5 linked regions of the Homo sapiens genome follow. The protein of the gene in region 1 purifies or fractionates together with the protein of each later gene. This does not show direct contact. Each region holds a gene or a part of one and is shown in the gene's direction. Other genes may lie near its edges.

The links.
Region 2: the proteins of TEX13B (region 1) and DPF2 purify together in Homo sapiens (affinity purification with mass spectrometry; one large-scale study listed by BioGRID and IntAct). This does not show direct contact.
Region 3: the proteins of TEX13B (region 1) and DPF3 purify together in Homo sapiens (affinity purification with mass spectrometry; one large-scale study listed by BioGRID and IntAct). This does not show direct contact.
Region 4: the proteins of TEX13B (region 1) and THTPA purify together in Homo sapiens (affinity purification with mass spectrometry; one large-scale study listed by BioGRID and IntAct). This does not show direct contact.
Region 5: the proteins of TEX13B (region 1) and SMARCC2 purify together in Homo sapiens (affinity purification with mass spectrometry; one large-scale study listed by BioGRID and IntAct). This does not show direct contact.

The regions. Positions count from the first base shown.
Region 1 is NC_000023.11:107,980,168-107,984,287, reverse strand, and holds TEX13B (testis-expressed protein 13B), read left to right. Parts: upstream 1-1,917; 5' UTR 1,918-1,978; intron 1,979-2,128; 5' UTR 2,129-2,160; coding exon 2,161-2,619; intron 2,620-2,728; coding exon 2,729-3,208; 3' UTR 3,209-3,424; downstream 3,425-4,120.
Region 2 is NC_000011.10:65,339,937-65,344,218, forward strand, and holds part of DPF2 (zinc finger protein ubi-d4), read left to right. Parts: intron 1-448; coding exon 449-609; intron 610-1,029; coding exon 1,030-1,137; intron 1,138-1,462; coding exon 1,463-1,626; intron 1,627-3,808; coding exon 3,809-3,901; intron 3,902-4,054; coding exon 4,055-4,133; intron 4,134-4,282. UniProt on the Homo sapiens protein: Plays an active role in transcriptional regulation by binding modified histones H3 and H4. Is a negative regulator of myeloid differentiation of hematopoietic progenitor cells. Might also have a role in the development and maturation of lymphoid cells.
Region 3 is NC_000014.9:72,621,451-72,625,732, reverse strand, and holds part of DPF3 (zinc finger protein DPF3), read left to right. Parts: intron 1-4,282. UniProt on the Homo sapiens protein: Belongs to the neuron-specific chromatin remodeling complex (nBAF complex).
Region 4 is NC_000014.9:23,554,313-23,559,346, forward strand, and holds the start of THTPA (thiamine-triphosphatase), read left to right. Parts: upstream 1-1,958; 5' UTR 1,959-2,445; coding exon 2,446-2,992; intron 2,993-4,382; coding exon 4,383-4,528; 3' UTR 4,529-5,034. UniProt on the Homo sapiens protein: Hydrolase highly specific for thiamine triphosphate (ThTP).
Region 5 is NC_000012.12:56,168,549-56,172,830, reverse strand, and holds part of SMARCC2 (SWI/SNF complex subunit SMARCC2), read left to right. Parts: intron 1-126; coding exon 127-246; intron 247-340; coding exon 341-403; intron 404-893; coding exon 894-1,152; intron 1,153-1,398; coding exon 1,399-1,560; intron 1,561-2,622; coding exon 2,623-2,687; intron 2,688-2,919; coding exon 2,920-3,055; intron 3,056-3,135; coding exon 3,136-3,302; intron 3,303-4,282. UniProt on the Homo sapiens protein: Involved in transcriptional activation and repression of select genes by chromatin remodeling (alteration of DNA-nucleosome topology).

The DNA.
Region 1 (4,120 bases):
GTACCGTCAGACATATGCACAAGTTGTTATGGGGACACAAAAAGGTTGCACAATTCAGCCTAGCTTGAGGTGGGGTCTGGAGAATCAGGAAATACAAGAGGAAGAAATGTTTGAGCACTGTCATGAAAAGGGAATAGAAACTGTATAGGAGTTAGGTGAATGAAAAGAATGGGAGTGGAGAGAGCAGGAGGGGATGAGGAGAAATCCGTGCATGCACAGAGGAGCCTGTGCAAGGGCCACAGAGGAAGAGAGAAGATGCTTCGTTTGAAAAACTAAAAATTACTTGCTATGGCCTATCTAAAAGACTATATAACTATTAAGAGGGATTATCACCCAGGTTGAAGGAAGGGTAGGATTATAGAAGTACTTTCCAAGCACTTAAAAATTATTTACAATGATCAGCTGTTACTGGGAGAAACATTTTTTTTCAATTTTGAAAAACATAACACGTTTATTATAAACAATTTTACAATAGAGAAAAATGTCAAGAATATTTTTTAAAGTACTGTATTCCTATTACCCAAAGATAACCACTGTTAAAGTGTTAGTATATAACTTTCCAGATTTGTGATGTATGCATACATATAGTTAGTTATATGCTCTTTGTAACAAGCGAAATTAGAGAAAAATGTATTTTAAAGTTAAAAACTTTTTTTCTAACCTCCAGTCCAACCCCACTTCCCAGAGATAATTAATGTTGAGTCTGCTATATATCCTCTCTCATTCTGTTCTCCAAGATTATAGAAACATACAAACATATGCAAACACACACATACACACAAATACGGGATCATAGAAAACATTACTCCTACAACTTTACATGCCCTTTTGTCATTGGCCATCATCATAGATCCATAGGTAGAAACAGATTCAGTTACAGTACAATGTCATGTAATACGTAGCAACGCTGGACTCAACCTGAGATTTGTCTGATTTATCTTGTGGGTCTCAGAAAGTCATTCAAGGTTTTCTTGTTTTTGTGTTTGTTTGTTTGAGACAGAGTCTCACTCTGTCACCCAGGCTACAGTGCAGTGGTGCGATCTCGGCTCACTGCAACCTCCGCCTCGTGGGTTCAAGCGATTCTCCTGCCTCAGCCTCCCGAGTAGCTGGGACTACATGCGCGTGCCACCACATCTGGCTAATTTTTTGTAATTTTAGTAGAGACGGGGTTTCACCCTGTTAGCCAGGATGGTCTCGATCTTCTGACCTCGTGATCCGCCCATCTCGGTCTCCCAAAGTACTGGGATTACAGGCATGAGCCACCGCGCCCGGCCGAAGGTTTTAAGAGACATATTCATATCCCTCTGATGGAAGATCTCTGATATTTCATGTTTTGGTAAAAAGGTGTATTTATGCTACTCCTAACTCTCTTTCTCCCACAGTTGCTTCAAGATTCAAGGCGTTTCAGTAGGGGAGGAGTGGGAGAAGGGGTGATGGGAGGAGTGTGGGGAAAGAGGAGCTAAGGGAGGAAAGGCAGGCCAGGATTTGTTAGGGTGTCTGGGATGTTTAGTCCTGAGCAAACAGGGGATAAGCTCCGCTCCTGGCTCCACCCTCTTCCTCCAAGGGCAACTGAGGGGTTGGGGCTGTTTCCTGCTCTAGAATATTCCAGTTGGGGGCGAAACTCCCCTGGCATGGCACAAACCATTATGATGGGGAGGGATAAGTCTTCAACTTGTTCACAAATACTTTTTTTGGTCCTAAGTCCTTCCGGACCACTCCTGTTTCTTTCAGCCTTCAAGGTCTCCCGACCATGTGGCAGGTTCCCTTTTGTCCCAGTGGAATGGCAGAGGCCTTCCTCACTCACTCCCTTTCACCCCTACAGTCTCTGGAAATTGGAACAGTCCCAGAGTAAAATCCTCATGGGTTGGCCCTGAGGCTTCTTTTCCCGCAGAGCCCTAGGAGGGAAAGAGGCCACCCTCTCTTCAGGCGTGTTAAGCAGCGGGGTTGGCCTGTACTTCCTCTGGCCCTGGCTGAAGAGGTGAGGCCTGGTGGGAGATGTCCTAGGGTAGGACAAGCCGGTCAGAGGGTCATTAGGAGGGTCTTGTCAGAGGTGGGAGGGCGGAGAAGACAGATGAGGGGAGGGGCTAAGGAGGAGGAAAGAAACCTATTGGCTGCTCCATCCACACAGGGCTAGTGAAACCGTTAAGCCCCTAGGCGATCATGGCCTTGAGACCTGAGGACCCCAGTAGTGGGTTCCGGCACGGAAACGTGGTGGCCTTCATCATCGAGAAAATGGCCAGGCACACGAAAGGCCCCGAGTTCTACTTCGAGAATATATCCTTATCCTGGGAGGAGGTGGAAGACAAGCTCAGGGCCATCCTGGAGGACAGCGAGGTGCCCAGCGAGGTCAAAGAGGCCTGCACCTGGGGCAGCCTGGCCTTGGGTGTGCGCTTTGCCCACAGGCAGGGGCAGTTACAAAACCGCAGGGTGCAGTGGCTGCAAGGCTTTGCCAAACTGCACAGATCAGCTGCGCTGGTCTTGGCCTCAAACCTGACGGAACTCAAGGAACAGCAGGAGATGGAATGCAATGAGGCGACCTTCCAGTTGCAGCTAACCGAGACCAGCCTTGCGGAGGTGCAGAGAGAGCGGGACATGCTGAGATGGAAGCTCTTCCATGCCGTAAGATCCCCCGAATGGTCCCTGTCCAATGCCTCTGCCCTGCCCCAACCTGTCCGGACCCCCTGCCCTGTCCCCAGAATGTGTTTCAGCTCTGCCTACTTCTCTCCAGGAGCTGGCACCTCCCCAGGGACAGGGCCAGGCTACAGTGTTTCCAGGCCTGGCCACTGCCGGAGGGGATTGGACAGAAGGAGCAGGTGAGCAGGAAAAGGAGGCGGTGGCTGCTGCTGGTGCTGCTGGAGGAAAAGGAGAGGAGAGGTATGCAGAGGCAGGGCCTGCCCCCGCAGAGGTCTTGCAGGGGCTGGGAGGAGGCTTCAGGCAGCCCCTCGGAGCTATTGTAGCAGGCAAATTACACCTTTGCGGGGCAGAGGGAGAAAGATCTCAGGTCAGTACAAACAGCCATGTCTGTCTTCTCTGGGCTTGGGTCCACAGTCTCACTGGAGCCTCTTCCTGTCCAGCTCCCTACCTCATTCACATACTCATACCCATGCCCTTTGTCCGCCTTCTCAGCCATACCCAATATACCCCCTTCACCAGCAAAGGTCACAGAACGGGTTCCAACTCAGATGCCTTTCAACTGGGGGGCCTCTGATGCTAGCCTGTGGTCAGATGTGGAGGCCCAGGGAATAGACCCTCAAGAGCCCCCAAGAGACAGGAGAGACTCCGAACTCCATCAGCAGAGAAGACCTCCAGTATATCGCAGGCCAGGGAACTGGGACTGCCCGTGGTGTAAAGCTGTGAATTTTTCATGGAGGGAAAATTGCTTCCTCTGTGGGAGGCGAATCTGGCTGCAAAAGCCTCAGTAAATTCAGAAATGTAAAATAGAACAGAAATATATCTCAATGGGAAATCAATCTTCAGGGGGAGAGGGGAGAGGTGGGAGGGGGATTGGGTGGAGTGGGGGAAAGGGGATGAGTGGGAAGATTGGACAGTAGGGGGGCGGGGAGGCGGGGTTGTGGGTGGGAGGATGTAGATGACAGGCAGGGAGAGACATGTTTTAATGACTCCATTTGTATTTCAGAGTATTAGTAGTCAACACTCCAGAACTACTGCAGTTTTTATTTGTGTGTGTGTCTCTAGCTCCCTATCTTAAGTATCTGTCGGACCTGGGCAGTATGTAACACCTACACTCTCTCCCTTCATGTAGGCTTTAGATAATTGGAGCAGGAGTGGATATTTGACCAATCCTGAGCCAAATGAATTTTTACGTTAGAAAATCTGAACAGACAGGCAGATTCCACAGTCAGAATAGTGTTGGGCAATGAAGCAGTGGGTCACTTGGAGTTGGGGCCAGGGTCACAGCCATGGACACCAAGGCCATAGCTGAGGCCTGGCCCTGGCTGTGGGGGAACAGAACTGGATGCTTTACAGAGTCAAGTGTCTTTTAGAGGACGCCAGTATGAGGTTTCAGGGAGCAGACAGGCATAGAGGAGTTCATCCTGTGACTACAGAGAGATGGAGAGGGTAGTGATGGCCCAATCACTTTTCACTTCCTGTAGTTGTG
Region 2 (4,282 bases), on another chromosome or scaffold:
CTTGGGGCAAGGATGTGGGAGCATGTAGTTTATTTGGGAGGTGATTCTAGGAAAGAGGGAATAAGGAGGAACTTAGGAGGGACTATCATCTGCTTCTTAGCCTCATAAGGGTTAAGAGAAATAGCATCTTAACTAGCACAGGGGTGGGCTTGTGAGACACGTGGAGTGAACATTCTTTCACCTCTTTGGGGGTTAAACTTAAGTCTGATTAGACATATGATGAAATCATGTGTTCCTGATGGTAATTTATTTGTAAAGTAATTCCTCATGATGGCCTAGAAAAGGGGCTTCGTGTCCCATGAGGCAGAAGTGGAGGCAAATAGAACGGAAGAGACAGCCACCCAGTCCCTTGAGCCTTCTAGAGAAGCAGATGGCAGGGGAGAGGAATAGCTCAGCACCCTATGCCCCCCGCTCCAACATACACGCCTGATTTCTATCTTCCCTGCAGCCTTGGGGAGCAGTACTACAAAGATGCCATGGAGCAGTGCCACAATTACAATGCTCGCCTCTGTGCTGAGCGCAGCGTGCGCCTGCCTTTCTTGGACTCACAGACCGGAGTAGCCCAGAGCAATTGTTACATCTGGATGGAAAAGCGACACCGGGGTCCAGGTGAGGGTCCAGACTTGGGAGAAGGGGACTCAGGAGCATAAGGAGGAAGAAGCCTCCTCATCTTAGGTGATGAGACAGTTGATAGGGTTTTCCCTACTGCCTTCCACCTATGGATGAATATGGTCTTCCTGTGATTAGAAACCCAGGGAGGATGAAGCAGATGTTTGATACCAGCATCTTTGTTTTCTGCCCTGCTGAGGCCATTGTGTGTCTGGAGAACTATGTGTTAGCCAAGGCCCTGAAGCTTATATATCTATTTTTCTTTTCCACAGACTATTCCACCTAACCCCCTAGGCCCTCACTGTCAGAATTTCTCCCTTGCTCTAGAACTCAAAGGGGGGCCTACTTAATTAGAAAGTGTTTGGTATTACTTTCTAATACTGGGTTAGGGCCTGACTTCTATCTTTCTTCCTGCCACAGGATTGGCCTCCGGACAGCTGTACTCCTACCCTGCCCGGCGCTGGCGGAAAAAGCGGCGAGCCCATCCCCCTGAGGATCCACGACTTTCCTTCCCATCTATTAAGCCAGGTAAGGCACATACTTCCTGAGCAGAGGCGTGGCCTGCTGCATGGTGAGAGCCTGCTAATCACTGTGATATACCAGGCCCAGTACTAGATCCCAAATATACTCAAATGAATATGATGTGATTCTTTCCTTTAAGGACCTCAGTCTAGAAGGGGAGACAGGTAAACAGATAAGTTATGGTGCCAAGTGAACTAGGGTGTCTTAATTCCTGGGCGTGCAGAGAACAAAAGATAGTGACAGACCTTTGGTAAGCCCCAGCATTATGTGGACTCAGAGCAGTCTGCTTTCAGCCCTTTTGAGCCTTGCTTTATCCTGACCTTGCTTGCAGACACAGACCAGACCCTGAAGAAGGAGGGGCTGATCTCTCAGGATGGCAGTAGTTTAGAGGCTCTGTTGCGCACTGACCCCCTGGAGAAGCGAGGTGCCCCGGATCCCCGAGTTGATGATGACAGCCTGGGCGAGTTTCCTGTGACCAACAGTCGAGCGCGAAAGGTACAGGATTATCCCTGTGGCTAAGGGAGCTTTGATGGAAATCAGCCTCCTCTTCACTGGGGGCCACCTAGTTTCTAGAACTGAAACAGAAGCTGGAGTCCAGGAAGCAGGCCCCTGCAGTTCTGTTCTTACTTCAGTCCCTGATTATTGTCAGGTACTGACTGGCTTCTCTGTTGCTTCTAACTATAGACTCTCATTCATTCACTTTTATCACAGAAGGTTATTATTATACACATATATAATTTTCATTAAAAAAATTAAAATAGGCCAGATGCAGTGGCTCATGCCTGTAATCCCAGCACTTTGGGAGGCCAAGGCAGGAGGATTGCTCAAGTCCAGGAGTTCGAGACCAGCCTGGGCAACAAAGTGAGACCCCATCTCTACAAAAAAATAATAATTAAAAAAAAATAGCCAGGCATAGCAGCATGCGCCTGTTGTCCCAGCTACTAGGGAAGCTGAGGTGGGAGAATCACTTGAGCCTATGAGTTCGAGACTGCAATGAGTCATGATCATGCCACTGCACTCCAGCCTGGGCAACAAAAAAAAAAAATTAAAACCAGAAGGTGCAAGAATAGTACAATGAAATACCACATACTCTTTACCTAGATTTATCAATTCCACATTTTGCCACATTTGCCTTATCTGTCTTTGCTAAACTATTTGAGAGGAAACTTCAAAAACTTTTCAGTCTAGGCAACATAGCAGGACCTTGTCTCTACTAAAAATAAAAATAAAAAATTAGCTGGGCATGGTGGCACACGCCTGCAGTCCCAGCTACTCAGGAGGCTGAGGTGGGAGGATTGCTTGAGCCCAGGAGATTGAAGCTGTAGCTCTGCTTATGCCTCTGCACTCCAGCCTGGGTAACAGAGGGAGACCCTGTCTGGGAAGGGAGGGAAACAAACTTTTATCCCTAAGTGCTTTACTCTTTTATCACAAAAGTTTGTGTCACAGTTTTTTGGTCCCTGAGGTTACACAGTGAAGCACACTTAGTCTCTGCCAACAGAGAAGATAAGAATACATGTAAAAATAACAGCTATAAATATGCCAGCATTGGGTTAAGTGCCTTTTCATGCCCTTTCTCCTTTAGTCTGTACAACCTTATGGGGTAGGTCCTGTGTTCCCCATTTCACACAGAGGCTGAAACAAAGCAGTTTAAAAACTTCCCATGGGTCGGGCACGGTAGCTCACGCCTGTAATCCCAGCACTTTGGGAGGCCGAGGCAGGCGGATCTTGAGGTCAGGAGATCGAGACCATCCTGGCTAACATGGTGAAACCCCGTCTCTACTAAAAATACAAAAAAAATTAGCCAGGCGTGGTGGTGGGCACCTGCAGTCCCAGCTACTCAGGCGCAAACCCGGGAGGCAGAGCTTGCAGTGAGCCGAGATTGCGCCACTGCACTCCAGCCTAGGTGACAGAACGAGACTCCATCTCAAAAAAAAAAAAAAAACTTCCCATGGCCGGCCACGGTGGCTGACGCCTGTAATCCCAGCACTTTGGGAGGCCGAGGCAGTTGGATCACCTGAGGTCGGGAGTTCGAGACCAGCCTGACCAAGATGAAGAAACCCCGTCTCTACTAAAAATCCAAAATTAATCAGGTGTGGTGGCGCATGCCTGTAATTCCACCTACTTGGGAGGCTGAGGCAGGAGGATCGCTTGAACCCAGGAGACGGAGGTTGCGGTAAGCCAGTATTGCGCCATTGCACTCCAGCCTGGGCAACAAGAGCGAAACTCTGTCTCAAAAAAAAAAAAAAAAAAAAAAAGCTTCCCACAAGGTCACACAAATAAGCAACAACATTTTAATTTAAACTAGGAGGCGAGTGTCAGGACAGAACCACCAATAATGTGCTCCCAGGGTGGCCAATCAGAGGCAGGAGAGGGCATGGCTGCTTGTGGCATCAGGGCAACCTTTTGGAAGCATGCTATTTGATTTGGCCATGTGGCATGGTGGGGAAAGCATTTCAGGCTAAGGAAATAACGTGAAGCACAGGGGAAAGATATCCCAAAGTATGGAAGGGAGCAGGAGCAGGATTATAGCATGCTTGAAAGGCGTTGGTGAGGAATGAGGCTGGTGTGGGTGGGACCACGTCACAGAGGAGGTTCTGGGTGGCCTTGGCCAGTCTCATCATAGGGGAGCTTTTGGATGCACATATTTCTACCCATGCTAACCCTCCTGTCCACTCAGCGGATCCTAGAACCAGATGACTTCCTGGATGACCTCGATGATGAAGACTATGAAGAAGATACTCCCAAGCGTCGGGGAAAGGGGAAATCCAAGGTGAGGGGCCAGCGTGCTGCCTGCATCTTGGGACAGGGTGGCCTAGGGAATTCCTTATTTTATTTCAAGTGAGATTAGCGGCCACTTCCAAAAGAGTCTAACTCCTCAGGCCCAGCTACCAAAATAAGGGTGTCTCTTTGCTCTTCTTGGCAGGGTAAGGGTGTGGGCAGTGCCCGTAAGAAGCTGGATGCTTCCATCCTGGAGGACCGGGATAAGCCCTATGCCTGTGACAGTGAGTGCCTCACAAGTGGGTGGGTAGACCTTGCCTTGGACCCAGCTCCTGCTCTGGATATGAGAGGAGGGAGGGTTGTGTTTTTGCCCAGAGTATTAAAACAAACCTGGGCTCTTGTCCTGCCTGCTGACTGCTTCCGTCTGAGACCC
Region 3 (4,282 bases), on another chromosome or scaffold:
ATTATATCTAGCCATATGTGTACACATATATTAATAGACAGAAATAAGTAGAGATGTATGCATGTGTACCTACACATACATTTATTTCCTAGCTGTGTTGGCTGGGAGGGCCTAGAAGCAATGACAACACAGAAGCAATGAAGACACATGGCATCAAGGAATTGGTTTCTAAACACCATTCTCTCATAAAAAGAACCATGGATCCTTAGAGAAATGGCTGATTCCAGGGCTGGGATGCAAAATATGCCAGATAAGCCTGGAGGATTATGTGGTGTCAGAAAGTAAGGAAGTGTTCAAAAAATGAAAGGATATTTTCATGCGTCTAGAGGACACAGGAAGCAACTTGAAGGAACCCGTAATGACCAAATCTAGGAAAACTTGAGCAAAAAAATAATGACATTATTAGGTTATAACCTAAAGAAAAAATAAATATCTATACTAATATAAAAATTGAATAAATAAGTAAACAGAGGAGAAGGTAAGCTCTTCCTTAGAGCAGAATTCCAATGAGTAAATGTAGAGGGAAAGGGGAAATAATCATTGGGCACACTTCACAGTTATGGTTATAAGGACGAACTGTCAATTGATGCTAAAATTAGTGGGCAAAAGTATGATGAGAAGTAGGATATTTACATAATCTCAAATATCCTATTTCTCTTGTTGAGGAGATAATCTCCAAGTATCTCCCCAACAATATTACTTATTAGTATATTACAAAGGGAAAAACAGTAACTTTACAGTGAAAAAAATGGCAGACACTACCTTAACTATATAATCACAGATAACATTACAAGTAATAAGACGTACTGGCCTCAATTTCCCCCGATATGATGCGCCAAGAAGGGCACAACATTACTTTAGTGGTATTCTTGCTAAAAAATGTATGCATATGTGGATCTTATCATGAGAAAAGATCCAACTGAAATTGAGTGACATTTACAAAATCACTGGCTTGGATTTTTTGAAAGTGTCAAGCTCATGAAAGACAAAGAAACTGAGGAACTGTCACAGATTGAAGGATACTGAGAAAACACAACAATTAAATGCAATGAGGGATCTTGGATTGGATCCCTGGTAAAGAGACATAGGTTGGGGGCCGGGCGTGGTGGCTCACGCCTGTAATCCCAGCACTTTGGGAGGCTGAGGCGGGCGGATTACCTGAGGTCAGGCGCTGGAGAACAGCCTGGCCAACTTGGTGAAGCCCTGTCTCTACTAAAAATACAAAAATTAGCCAGGCATGGTGGCACATGCCTGTAATCCCAGTTACTCAGGACGCTGAGGCAGGAGAATTGCTTGAGCCCGGGAGAAGGAGGCTGCAGTGAGCCGAGATGGCACCACTGCACTCCAGTTTGGGCAACAGAGTGAGACTCTGTCTCAGAAAAAAAAAAAAAAAAAAAAAGAGACATAGGTGGGAAAACTGGAGAAATTAAAATAAAGTCTGTAGATTAGTTAACAGTATTACACCAATGGTAATTTTCTGATTTTCGTAATTCTGCTATAGTAATATAATATGTTAATATTAGGGCACAGTGAGTACAATTCTCTGCATAATTTCTGCACTTTTCTCTAAGTTTAAAATTATTTCAAATAAATAAATAAAAATATAGTGTGATGTTTCTCTAGCATCTTCTGAAGGTGACTAAGGTTTTAAAAAATATGTTTATGAACTTAAGATTTTAAACATATTTTATTTGTTATAATCCATTATAGGTAAAATTGTCCCATCTTTGACCAGTGGTAACATATTCAGGTTGGATCCTGAGTCCTTTTGACATAATCCTAATAGTATTTGATAGCTTCCTTACTTTGTAATATGTAAATATATTTATACATTTTATGCTCCAGACCTGGAATCACTTATTTCTCCCAGGACTCCTAATTCCTTTTAGTGGGCAATGGTCTTTAGAGAACATAATATGGGTGCTAGAGGTGCTAATTTTGCTGTTAGTCATTGTTTTGGAGCACTTTCTGTGGACAGAGGTAGAAAATATTTTTTGCTTGTTTTAAAGATACACTACACCATGAATTTATACTGATGCATCCAGTTCATACTTAGAACCAACTACTGACTTTTGACTTAACTTCATTGGCCTACATTTCTATTTTCTTTCAACCATGTTACAAAATCTTGCTCTTCAATAATACCAACATAATTACTCATTTGATGCACATAAAGCAGTCTCAGAATATTGATTCCAATATTTAAACCAATAATATAATTGCTGAACATTACACACACACACACATATATATGCAGATCTGCATTTATGTATGACCTTAAGGTATGTCCTACTAAGGATGTATTGTCAAATTAATTGTTTTATAGTCAGATGGAATAGTTTCTCTCTGTGTGGTTATGCTACCAATTGGATACATAACCAAATTCATTTGCCTCATTTTTCTTTTGTTTTTTTTAGGGACATATTGCTATTTAAATTTTGTTTTATGACTGTGTAAAATATTTATTGGTTCTAAAATCAAATTTATAAAGAAACATTATATTCAAAGAAATGTAGCTCTCTACTTACCTCTTCCACACTATTCCTTCACTCTGCATATAGGCAACCACTAAAAAATATGATTTGTCTTTCCATTTTGTTTAAATGTAAACATGTGTGTGTATATATGAATCCATGAAAAATGGTAACAAGTATATATGTTTTCTCCATCTTGCTTGTTTTCTCTGAATATCTTAGAGATTAATCTGGAGGAATATATAGACATTCTTCATTCCTTCCTACAGCTGCATAATTTTTACTTATCCAACCATTCCCTTATTGATGGACATTTAGGTTGACGCTGGTCTTTGGCTTTACAGATAGTGTAAATGTAGAGGATTTTTTTGTTGACTTGGCAGAGCCTTTGAGGAGGAGTCAGGGGGTGAGGTTGTTGGGGCACTAGGATTCCTCTCACATGGTCAGGGATTTACCCTGGATATCCGAGAATGGGATTCCCATTCTGCTGGAACTGTAGTAATAGGTGATTCCTGGTTCCTGGATAGTTGGTAGTGAGAGGTACTAAAATTGTGTTTGTCATGAGAGTTAGCATAAGCTGGGGGCTCTTGGTGGTGGAAGAGAAGAGAATATGGTGCTAGACAGTGGTCAACCCATGCAAAATGCACTTAAACTCTCAGATGCCTAGTTTTCCTTTGGGAAATTGTAATCCAGGATATTCTACCTATTTGTATTTCCCATGTCACTGCTGTAGTAGGGGTTATTACTGTTTTTAAGGCATTAATAACACTGTTTCTGACAAGTCCTGTCTGTTTTCTGTCTCCATCCTAACTTGTTTCTCCTTGTATTATCCCTAAATCAAATTGTCCTGTAGCTTATGCTGGCTCTGCAATAATGATGTAACTGTTTTGGCGTAAACTACAGTGTGCTCGTCTTCATCCCACCTCTCTGACTGTTCCTTTTCAGTCTTTTTTTCTCTGCCTGTCCTGTAAAGTTGGAGTACCCCAAGTGTACTTCTTCTCAGTAAACTCTTGGCCTTCTTCTCAGTAAACTCTTTTGGGTCCTTGATCTTTCAGAGAATTCAATGAAAGCTACGGACTTACTCTTTCCATAGAAAAATGTACATTTCTACCTATGTACAAAATTGTGTGTATCATTTCAAGGGGTTCATGGACACTTCTCCATGAAGACAAGGTCAAAGACATTTGCTCTCACACATTCTGGGCTTCCTCTCCTAGGACCTTCACTTGCCATCTAATTACAATGAATCCCAAGTCCATATCTCAGGCCCAGACTTCTCTCCTGCTCTCTTCAACAGCCTCCAGGTCATCCCTATCTGTAGAACATGTCTATAGCTGAGGTTGCCCTCTCCCTCCCATGAGTCTGCTCTTCCTCCCATGTCCCATTGGGTGGCTGTATCATCTGGCTTGCTGACCAAGCCACAACCCAGACGGCATCCTTGGCTTCTTCCCTATCACTCTCCCCATCTAATCAATGATGCTTAAATGGGAGCAAGACCCATTTCTTTCTCCATGCCGCAATTGTAATTCAGGCCACCATCATCACGCACCTGGATAGCTATAGCAGCTTCCTAACTGGTCCCCGGGCCTCTTGAATGAACCTCTCCCCCACTGGGTATCTACTCTTACATAGCAGCTAGTAAGATCTTTCTAAACTGCAATCTGATCGTATCACTCCCCTGTTGATAACTCTTCAAAAGCTTTCCTGTTGCCCCACTGACGGGTTTTAGCATGACAAAAAAAGCCCTCATTGCTTGCTCCCTGGGGATTCCAACAGCTATATCTAATTTTATCCAGGATTTCTGCACT
Region 4 (5,034 bases), on another chromosome or scaffold:
CAACAGTGCTTAACATGGAGTGGGGACAGAGGTTGACCCAAGCTACTCCAAGTTCAAGATGCCATTTGTTTATTTATTTATGCACAGGGTCTTGCTCTGTTGCCGAGGCTGGAGTGCAGGCAGTAGCAGGATCGTAGCTCACTGCCCTTGACCTCCTGGGCTCAAGCTATCCCGCTGCCTCAACCTCCTGAGCAGCTGGGACCACAGGCATGCACTACCACACCCGGCTAATTAAAATTTTTTTTTTTTTTTTTTTGTAGAAACAGGGTCTTCCTATGTTGCCCAGGCTGGTCTCAAACTCCTGGCCTCAAATGATCCTCCTGCCTCGACCTCCCAAAGTGCTAGGATTACAAGTGTGAGTCAACACACCTGGCCAAAATGCCATGTCTTTAAACCAGTGTCCTTCTCCCTATAATACCTCTCACTGGTCATGTATTTCCAGAAACATACTGGTGAGAGGGCAGGTGTTGAGAACATGGCACTTCTCACCCATCATAGGAAGGAGTCCAGGAGTTAAGAGCCACGGTTCCTCAGGGAGCTTCCTCACATGGAAGGTCAGACATATAGTTAGAGTCTCCAGATAACCATAGTCCTCAGAGGGAGTAAGAAGGAATCATCTCTATTAATATTTTGTCTCCCAAAGCATTCAAAGGGCCAACCCCCATGTTTTCCTGAATTTTATTTTTTTGGGGACAGATGGAGTCTCGTTCTGTCGCCCAGGCTGGAGTGCAGTGGCGCCATCTCAGCTCACTGCAACCTCTGCCTCCCAGGTTCAAGCAATTCTCATGCCTCAGCCTCTGGAGTAGCTGGGAACACAAGCACGCGCCACCATGCCCGGCTCATTTTTGCATTTTTAGTAGAGACGGCGGGCCGGGGGGGTTTCTCCATGTTGGCCAGGCTGGTCTCGAACTCCTGACCTCAGGTGATTCACCTGCCTCGGCTTCCCAAAGTGCTGGGATTGCAGGTGTGAGCAACCGCACCGGCCTTTCTGTATTCTAAATGAACATAAGTAGTTCTACACCTGACAAAAACTGCTTAGGGACCGCTGGAAACTCTGACAAACTCCTCAGTCTAGCACTCAAGGCTTTTCCCTCAACTGCATTTCTAGCCTCGTCTTCTCCTTACGTACCACCCAGGTGCTCTCCAGTTTCTGGGCCTTTGCTTAGGCTATTCCTGTCTCCATCTAGGTCTCCAACTGTTGAAATACCATCATATCTTTAGTTCCTGGCCAAAATACCACTTTATTCTCTGACAGAAAGTTTCTCACCCACTCTTACCCTCAACGTTCATGCCAGGAGGTATTAGATCCCCTCTAAAACTCCAGAGTAGCTAAACTGGACTTTATTACGCGCTGCCCCCGCCCCCTTCCCTCCCCCCACCCCAACCCCCCTCGCCACCATTGCCACTGGCCTGCGCTTAGCTGGCTGCTATAGCAGATATCTGTTGGACGGTGTGAATGGCTTGTATTCCAGGCCCATCTGCCTGCGTTGGGGGTGCGGCGGGGGGTGTTGGAGACGGGACTGGGGCTTGAGCTCCTTGCACCCGACTCTCCCCGCCGCCTTGTAGCCCCAGTTCAGCTTTAGGTAGAGTACCGCAGGCACCAAGTGCAGCTTTCCTGTCGCCATAGCGACGGGCGGGGCGAGATGGCAAAGTCTCCCTTTGGAACTACATCTCCCATCATGCATCCGCGCCTCGGGGTGCCTGGCTCAGCCTCAGGCATGAGACCTGTACCAGCCCCCGGGAGCCGTGCGGGGCCAACAATGAGGAGCAGAATGCAAGGGGCGGCCTCGCTCCCCTGGCCACCGCGGGGGTCGCGGCCTCCCATTACATAGCGCGTGTCTCGAGCCCTGGCCTGCTCTCGGCACCGCCACAACGGGCGTAATATGGCCGCTGGTGCCGGGACCTGCCGGGCGCGCGGAGGGTCGGGCCGAGGTCCGGGATCCGGAACTGCTCCCGGCATTCCTCGCGAGTGTATGGCGTGGGCTCCCTTCCCCCTCTGTGGGTCCCGCGAGGAGACTCTCGGGCTTTGAGGTGAGACCTGAAGTTCCGCTGGCCGGTAGTGTAGCAGGAAAGGGCAGGTCCTCCCGGGTCGTGAGCCAGTAGCCTCCTGGGGTGGCAAGGTGTAGAGAGGGGGGCGTTGAAAGGACACCCGCTACCCGGCCTGCTTTCTAGGGGTCTCTTTGGATTGAGGACATCAGCAGCAGTGGAAGGGATTTTACTGGAGACCTGTCACTGTCAGAGCCTTAAAATATCACCGACGGGGCCTTAATGTCACCGAGGTAGAGAGAAAAGGGCAGTAGCCCTAGAGACTATTGCGACACAGTGTGCCCCTCATAAGTTTTTCCAGGGAGGGGTTCTGTACTGAGTTGACGCCCCAGGAGCTGAGCACCAGGCTTTGCATCCTTGGGAACTCAGCAAACGTTTGTTCAGCCAATTGCAGGTAGCATGGCCCAGGGCTTGATTGAGGTGGAGCGAAAGTTCCTTCCAGGGCCTGGCACAGAGGAGCGGCTGCAGGAGTTGGGGGGCACCCTGGAGTACCGGGTCACCTTCCGAGACACCTACTATGACACCCCTGAGCTGAGCCTCATGCAGGCTGACCACTGGCTGCGACGACGAGAGGATAGTGGATGGGAGCTCAAATGTCCTGGAGCAGCAGGTGTCTTAGGACCCCACACGGAGTATAAGGAACTCACAGCGGAACCTACAATTGTGGCCCAACTCTGTAAGGTGCTGCGGGCTGACGGCCTGGGGGCTGGAGATGTGGCTGCTGTGCTGGGCCCACTGGGGCTGCAGGAAGTAGCTAGTTTTGTGACTAAGCGGAGTGCCTGGAAGCTGGTGCTCTTGGGAGCTGATGAAGAGGAGCCACAGCTCAGGGTGGACTTGGATACAGCCGACTTTGGCTACGCTGTGGGTGAGGTAGAGGCCCTGGTGCATGAGGAGGCTGAAGTACCAACTGCCCTAGAGAAGATCCACAGGCTCAGCAGCATGCTTGGTGAGGGAGACAGGCCCTTTTGTGCTTTTCCTGCTCCCCACTTTTCTCTTTTGGAGGCACCTGCTGGACCATGCAGTGGGGGAGGGCCTCCGGATTAAAAATTTTTTTTTTAATAGAGACAAGGTTTTGCCGTGTTGCCCAGGCTGGTCTGGAACTCCTGGACTCAAGCAATTTGCCTGCCTCGGCCTTCCAAAGTGCTGGGATTACAGGTGTGAGCCTCTGTGCCTGGCCTGGATTATTTTTGTAATGGGAATTGTTTTAGCAATTTTCTAAGTTTGCTTACAGTTCTGTGAAATCTCGTTTTCTCTTTAACAGTAGCTAATTTGGATCTAGTCCTTCCACGTGTCTAATTCCAGCCAACCTGCCTCATTTAGTTCTCATACCTATAGCCAGATCTCCTTCAGTTTCATTTCTCAGTTCCCTGCTTTGACTCTTCCTTCCCCCAATCTCTTTTTTTTCTTCTTCTTCAGTCACCACTCCTCCACAAGGAGTAAAAAGTAAGCCTTTTTACAAAAGCTGCCCTCTGGGAGGCTCAGACCCAGGATCTTCAGATCATGAGACTGATGCACTGCCCACTACACTGAGAGTCCAACCAGTCTTGTCCTTTTGTTTTACAATTACCTAGATCCTTTTAATTTGTCCTTTTGGCTTTTTGTAAAGGACAATAACATTATAGTTATGTGAGACAGTGGGGCATGATTTGGCAGATTTGTTCCTAAGCATAATTCCCTTGTAGACAGTTCATCCACACTAGGAATTGTGCATCCCATGGGGCCTTACAGCCCTGCAGTGCTGTTTGAGCCCCCTCAGCAAACATACACTGAGTTCCTTGCTATGTGCCCAGCATGCTGCCAGGCACTAACAACAAGACACTGGCAACAGGCAGTTCCATTCTCACCTCACCATGTAGAGGCGAGAATTCTATGTGAATCCCACCCCATGGCTATAGCTTCCCTCCTCTTCTTTCTATAGCTCTTGGTTTCTATGTGTACATCTCTGCATGTGCTTCATTACTAAGCTAATGAGCTTTGGCCTGGTCTAGGGCTTTAATCTTGATTGCGGAACAGGGTAATAACTGAAATGAGCTGACGCTGAGGCATCCTTCGTTTATCTTGGTGCCTGGGTGCCTCTTCGCCATTTCTCCTTGCTGGAGGAGAGAGGCTGAGGTGTGGCTTCTAGTCCCACTCTTGCCTGAAGTTGCTCTTTTAGGTCCCACTTCCACAGGCAGGCAGGGAGTGGACTAGTGTGTTACAGAAGCTGGGTGGGTGACATTCAGAACCCCAGTGTGGCTTTGGAAACATCCACGGAGTCCTGGCTAGGTGGGCAGGGAGCAGAGTCCAAGTGCTTGTGGCTCTGTCCATTTCTCTCCTCATTGTCCTTTTACCTGTAGGTGTGCCTGCACAGGAGACAGCACCAGCCAAGCTGATTGTGTATCTACAGCGTTTCCGGCCTCAAGACTATCAGCGCCTGCTAGAAGTGAACAGCTCCAGAGAGAGGCCACAGGAGACTGAAGATCCTGACCACTGCCTGGGCTAGGGGTGTCACTTCCTAGAAGGGGAAGGGAACTCTGGGTCTAACGGAGTCCACTCCTGGGCCCACTGTGCCTCTCCCCTCAGTGTCCCTTCTGACAGTGACTCCTCTCTCTCCAGCGCTGCCTGTTTCTTCCCCCTCCTCTAAGCTACTCTTCCTTGAGCCCTCCCTGGCTGCTTCCTCTCGCTCATCCGTCAGATGCAATCTGTGGGCCGCCCCTCTCCCCTGGCCGCTAAGCAGCCTCCATTGATTTCCGCTCGTGTTTATAGGATTTCCACTTAGCCGTGATCAGTAGTTAAGCACAGGAAAATCCCTTGCCACCCCCCCTCCCTTGGTCGATGCCATTGATTCTGCCAGCGGCTCCTAAACCGCCTTACAGCTGAGTTAGAAGATGAGGAGAGGCAGCAGGGATTTCCCTGCCTTGGGATGTGGGAAACAGAAGAAAAGTTGAGGAAATGGTTGGGAATCGCTGTTAGAACTCTAGAAATTCTAATCTGACTTTGCCACTGTGC
Region 5 (4,282 bases), on another chromosome or scaffold:
GGAAGTCCCACCCAGGGGTGTCCCTGGCTTTGGGAAAGAAGCTCCTTCTGTCTGTTTTTTCTCTCTGTCAGCCCCTGGCTCCCGGTGGTCACTTGTACTCACCTGTTTCTTTCCCTCCACAAATAGCAGACCTCTGCTTCCCAACAAATGCTCAACTTTCCTGACAAAGGCAAAGAGAAACCAACAGACATGCAAAACTTTGGGCTGCGCACAGACATGTACACAAAAAAGAATGTTCCCTCCAAGGTAGGAGGTGCGGGCCGACTCTAGGGGTAGAGAATGTTCGCTCCTCAGAGGTCACAGGCTCCTTTCTTCTCACCTGCCTGTGTTTCCCCTGCAGAGCAAGGCTGCAGCCAGTGCCACTCGTGAGTGGACAGAACAGGAAACCCTGCTTCTCCTGGAGGTAATTGGGGCAAAGAAAAGAGAGTTTTTCTCTGAAAACAGAAGTGGGCTCCGTGTAGAGGCTCACGCCTGTAATCCCAGCACTTTGGGAGGCCAAGGCAGGAGGATCACTTGAGTCCAGGAGTTCGAGATGAACCTGGGCAACATAGTGAGACTCCGTCTCTACGAAAAATTTTAAAAATTAGCCAGGTGTGGTGGCACACACCTGTGGTCCCAGCTACTCAGGAGGCTAAGTGGGAGGATTGCTTGAGCCTAGGAGGTCAAGGCTCCAGTGAGCTTCAGGACCAGCTCCAGGCTGGGGATTTGGGCCATTTCATTAACTTCATATCCTTTCTTAGTGCTACTTCAAGATCCCCCTTGGACCTAGCAGAGTACACAAATACCAGAACATAGAGAACTTTGAAACCAGCTGCCCTTAGTAGGATGGGGGGAGTCAGCCTTCGAGAAAAGTGGCTAAGTAAGCGGAGTTATGTCTCCACCACTACCACCAGGCACTGGAAATGTACAAAGATGACTGGAACAAAGTGTCCGAGCATGTGGGAAGCCGCACACAGGACGAGTGCATCTTGCATTTTCTTCGTCTTCCCATTGAAGACCCATACCTGGAGGACTCAGAGGCCTCCCTAGGCCCCCTGGCCTACCAACCCATCCCCTTCAGTCAGTCGGGCAACCCTGTTATGAGCACTGTTGCCTTCCTGGCCTCTGTCGTCGATCCCCGAGTCGCCTCTGCTGCTGCAAAGTCAGCCCTAGGTAATGGGGGTGGGTGGTTCCACCTGGCCTTCTTAGTTTGCTTTTGAAGGGCTAGTTACTCAGACTGTGAATCCTCTCAAGTTTGGCTGCCCTGCTGGCCTTGTCTGTGCGGGCCTCAGCTCAGGCACCTGTCTAGGCTCCATACTAGCTTAGATGAAGACATGGGCTTGTGAGTAAGCTTTTGCAGGGATTGCCAGAACTGTTCCACTGTGCCGCTCCCAGCCTCATTCTTTCTGGGTCTTGCAGAGGAGTTCTCCAAAATGAAGGAAGAGGTACCCACGGCCTTGGTGGAGGCCCATGTTCGAAAAGTGGAAGAAGCAGCCAAAGTAACAGGCAAGGCGGACCCTGCCTTCGGTCTGGAAAGCAGTGGCATTGCAGGAACCACCTCTGATGAGCCTGAGCGGATTGGTAAGGCCAGGCAGGTTCCCAGATTTCTTGCCTTTCACAAGATCCAGAGCTACCTGGCCTCCTGTGCCATTTCTGCCTCAAGTTGGCATTAGAGCACAACATGAATGAGAACATTGGTAGGGTTTTTATTTTCCCCATGAGTTTACCTCAGGGGCTCTGGAGCCCTACTAGTCCTCTCATGAAGATTTTGGGTAGAAAAATCTTTGCTTGTAGAAGGGGCTGTTAGAAAAGTCTTGTGAAGGCCGGGCGCAGTGGCTCATGCCTGTAATCTCAGCACTTTGGGAGGCCGAGGTGGGTGGATCACGAGGTCGGGAGTTCAAGACCAGCCTGGCCAAGATGCTGAAACCCTGTCTCTACTAAATATACAAAAATTAGCTGGGCGTGGTGGCACGTGCCTGTAATCCCAGCTACTTCAGAGGCTGAGGCAGGAGAATCACTTAAACCTGGGTGCCAGAGGTTGCAGTGAGCCAAGATCAAGCCACTGCACTCCAGCCTGGGCAACAGAGCAAGACTTCGTCTCTCAAAAAAAAAAAAAAAAAAAAAAAAGTCTTGTGAAGGCTGGGTGCAGTGGCTCATGCCTGTAATCCCAGTACTTTGGGAGGCTGAGGTGGGCAGATGGTTTGAGACCAGTCTGGGCAACATGGCAAAATCCCGTCTCTACAAAAAATACCAAAAAAGTTAGCCAGGCATGGTGGCATGCGCCTGTAGCCCCAGATACACAGGAGGCTGAGGTGAGAGAACCACTTGAGCCTGGGAAGTCAAGGCTGCAGTGAGCCATGATTGTGCTACTGCACTCCAGCCTGGGCGACAAGAGTGAGACCCTGTCACAAAAAAACAAAAAACAAAAAAAAACAGGTGTTATGGAGAAGCTGGGTGCAACGGCTCACACCCATAGTCCAAGCTGCTCAGGAGGCTGAGGTGGGAGGATTGCGTGGGCCCAGGAGTTTGAGACCAACCTGGGCAACACAGCAAGACCCTGTCTCTAAAAAAAAAGAAAAGTGTTAGACACAGACGACTGTGTATTAAACATTTCCTGTTTTCTTTCTTTTCTCATGGGCCCAGAGGAGAGCGGGAATGACGAGGCTCGGGTGGAAGGCCAGGCCACAGATGAGAAGAAGGAGCCCAAGGTATAGAGGGATTTCTGGAAGCTGCAGGGGCTGCGTGCAGCACTGTGGTGATGGGGAAGTTGGCCTTGTTCAGCTTAGGTGGGCAAGGGCTGGTTTTGGACGGGGTTGTCTCCTAGAATCAGATCACCTCCAAAGTAAGAGGAATAAATTTAGTTCCCCGTCTGGCCCCTCTGTGTGAGAACTAATCACCCTAATCCCTGATAACTCTCCTTTTCTATCACTGGAATTTCAGGAACCCCGAGAAGGAGGGGGTGCTATAGAGGAGGAAGCAAAAGAGAAAACCAGCGAGGCTCCCAAGAAGGATGAGGAGAAAGGGAAAGAAGGCGACAGTGAGAAGGAGTCCGAGAAGAGTGATGGAGACCCAATAGGTGAGCCTCCCACAAGGGTAGGTGGGGGTGCAGGACAGAGGTGAAGCTGTGGGGCTAACTCAACCCTTGTCCTGGCCCAGTCGATCCTGAGAAGGAGAAGGAGCCAAAGGAAGGGCAGGAGGAAGTGCTGAAGGAAGTGGTGGAGTCTGAGGGGGAAAGGAAGACAAAGGTGGAGCGGGACATTGGCGAGGGCAACCTCTCCACCGCTGCTGCCGCCGCCCTGGCCGCCGCCGCAGTGAAAGCTAAGGTGAGGCCAGACCTTGAAGACCTCAGGGAAGAAAATGTCCACTTCTCTAATCTCATCTCACTTAGAGGAAATCTTTCCTCACTCACACCTTAAATAATGCTGACCTATTTATTTTTTATTTTTATCTCAGGAGGAGGTAAAGTTAGTCATCCCTTCTCTAAGCTTTAAAAAATATATCACCATTGGGCCTGTTTTCAACCCTGTCAGTATTTGACTCCATGTTACCCTTTGCCACACTATCTCCATGTTCTTCTTTTGAGACGGAGTCTTGCTCTGTCAGATCTCGGCTCACTGCAGCCTCCACCTCCCAAGTTCAAGTGATTCTCCTGCCTCAGCCTCCCGAGTAGCTGGGACTACAGGCGTGCTACACCACGCCTGGCTAACTCTTTGTATTTTTAGTAGAGATGGGGTTTCACCATGTTGGCCAGGCTGGTCTTGAACTCCTAACCTCAGGTGATCCACCCGCTTTGGCCTCCCAAACTGCTGGAATTACAGGCGTGAGCCACCGTGCCCAGCCTCCATGCTTGTTTATTTATTTATGTATTTTTTGAGATGGAGTCTCACTCTGTTGCCCAGGCTGGAGTGCAGTGGCACAATCTCGGCTCACTGCAACCTCCACCTCCCAGGTTCAAGCGATTCTCCCACCTCAGCCTCCCAAGTAGCTAGGATTACAGGCACGTGCCAGCATGCCCGGTTAATTTTTGTATTTTTAGCAGAGATGGGGTTTCACCCTGTTGCCCCAGGCTGGTCTCAAACTCCTGGACTCAAGTGATCTGCTCGCCTTAGCCTCCCAAAGCGCTGGGATTACAGGCATGAGCCATCACACCTGGCCAAAATAATTTAATTTTTTAAAAAGGCTGGGCGCAGTGGCTCACGCGTGTAATCCCAGGACTTTGGGAGGCTGAGGCAGGTGGATCACCTGAGGTTGTAAGTTTGAGACCAGCCTGGCCAACATGGTGAAACCCCATCTCTACTAAAAA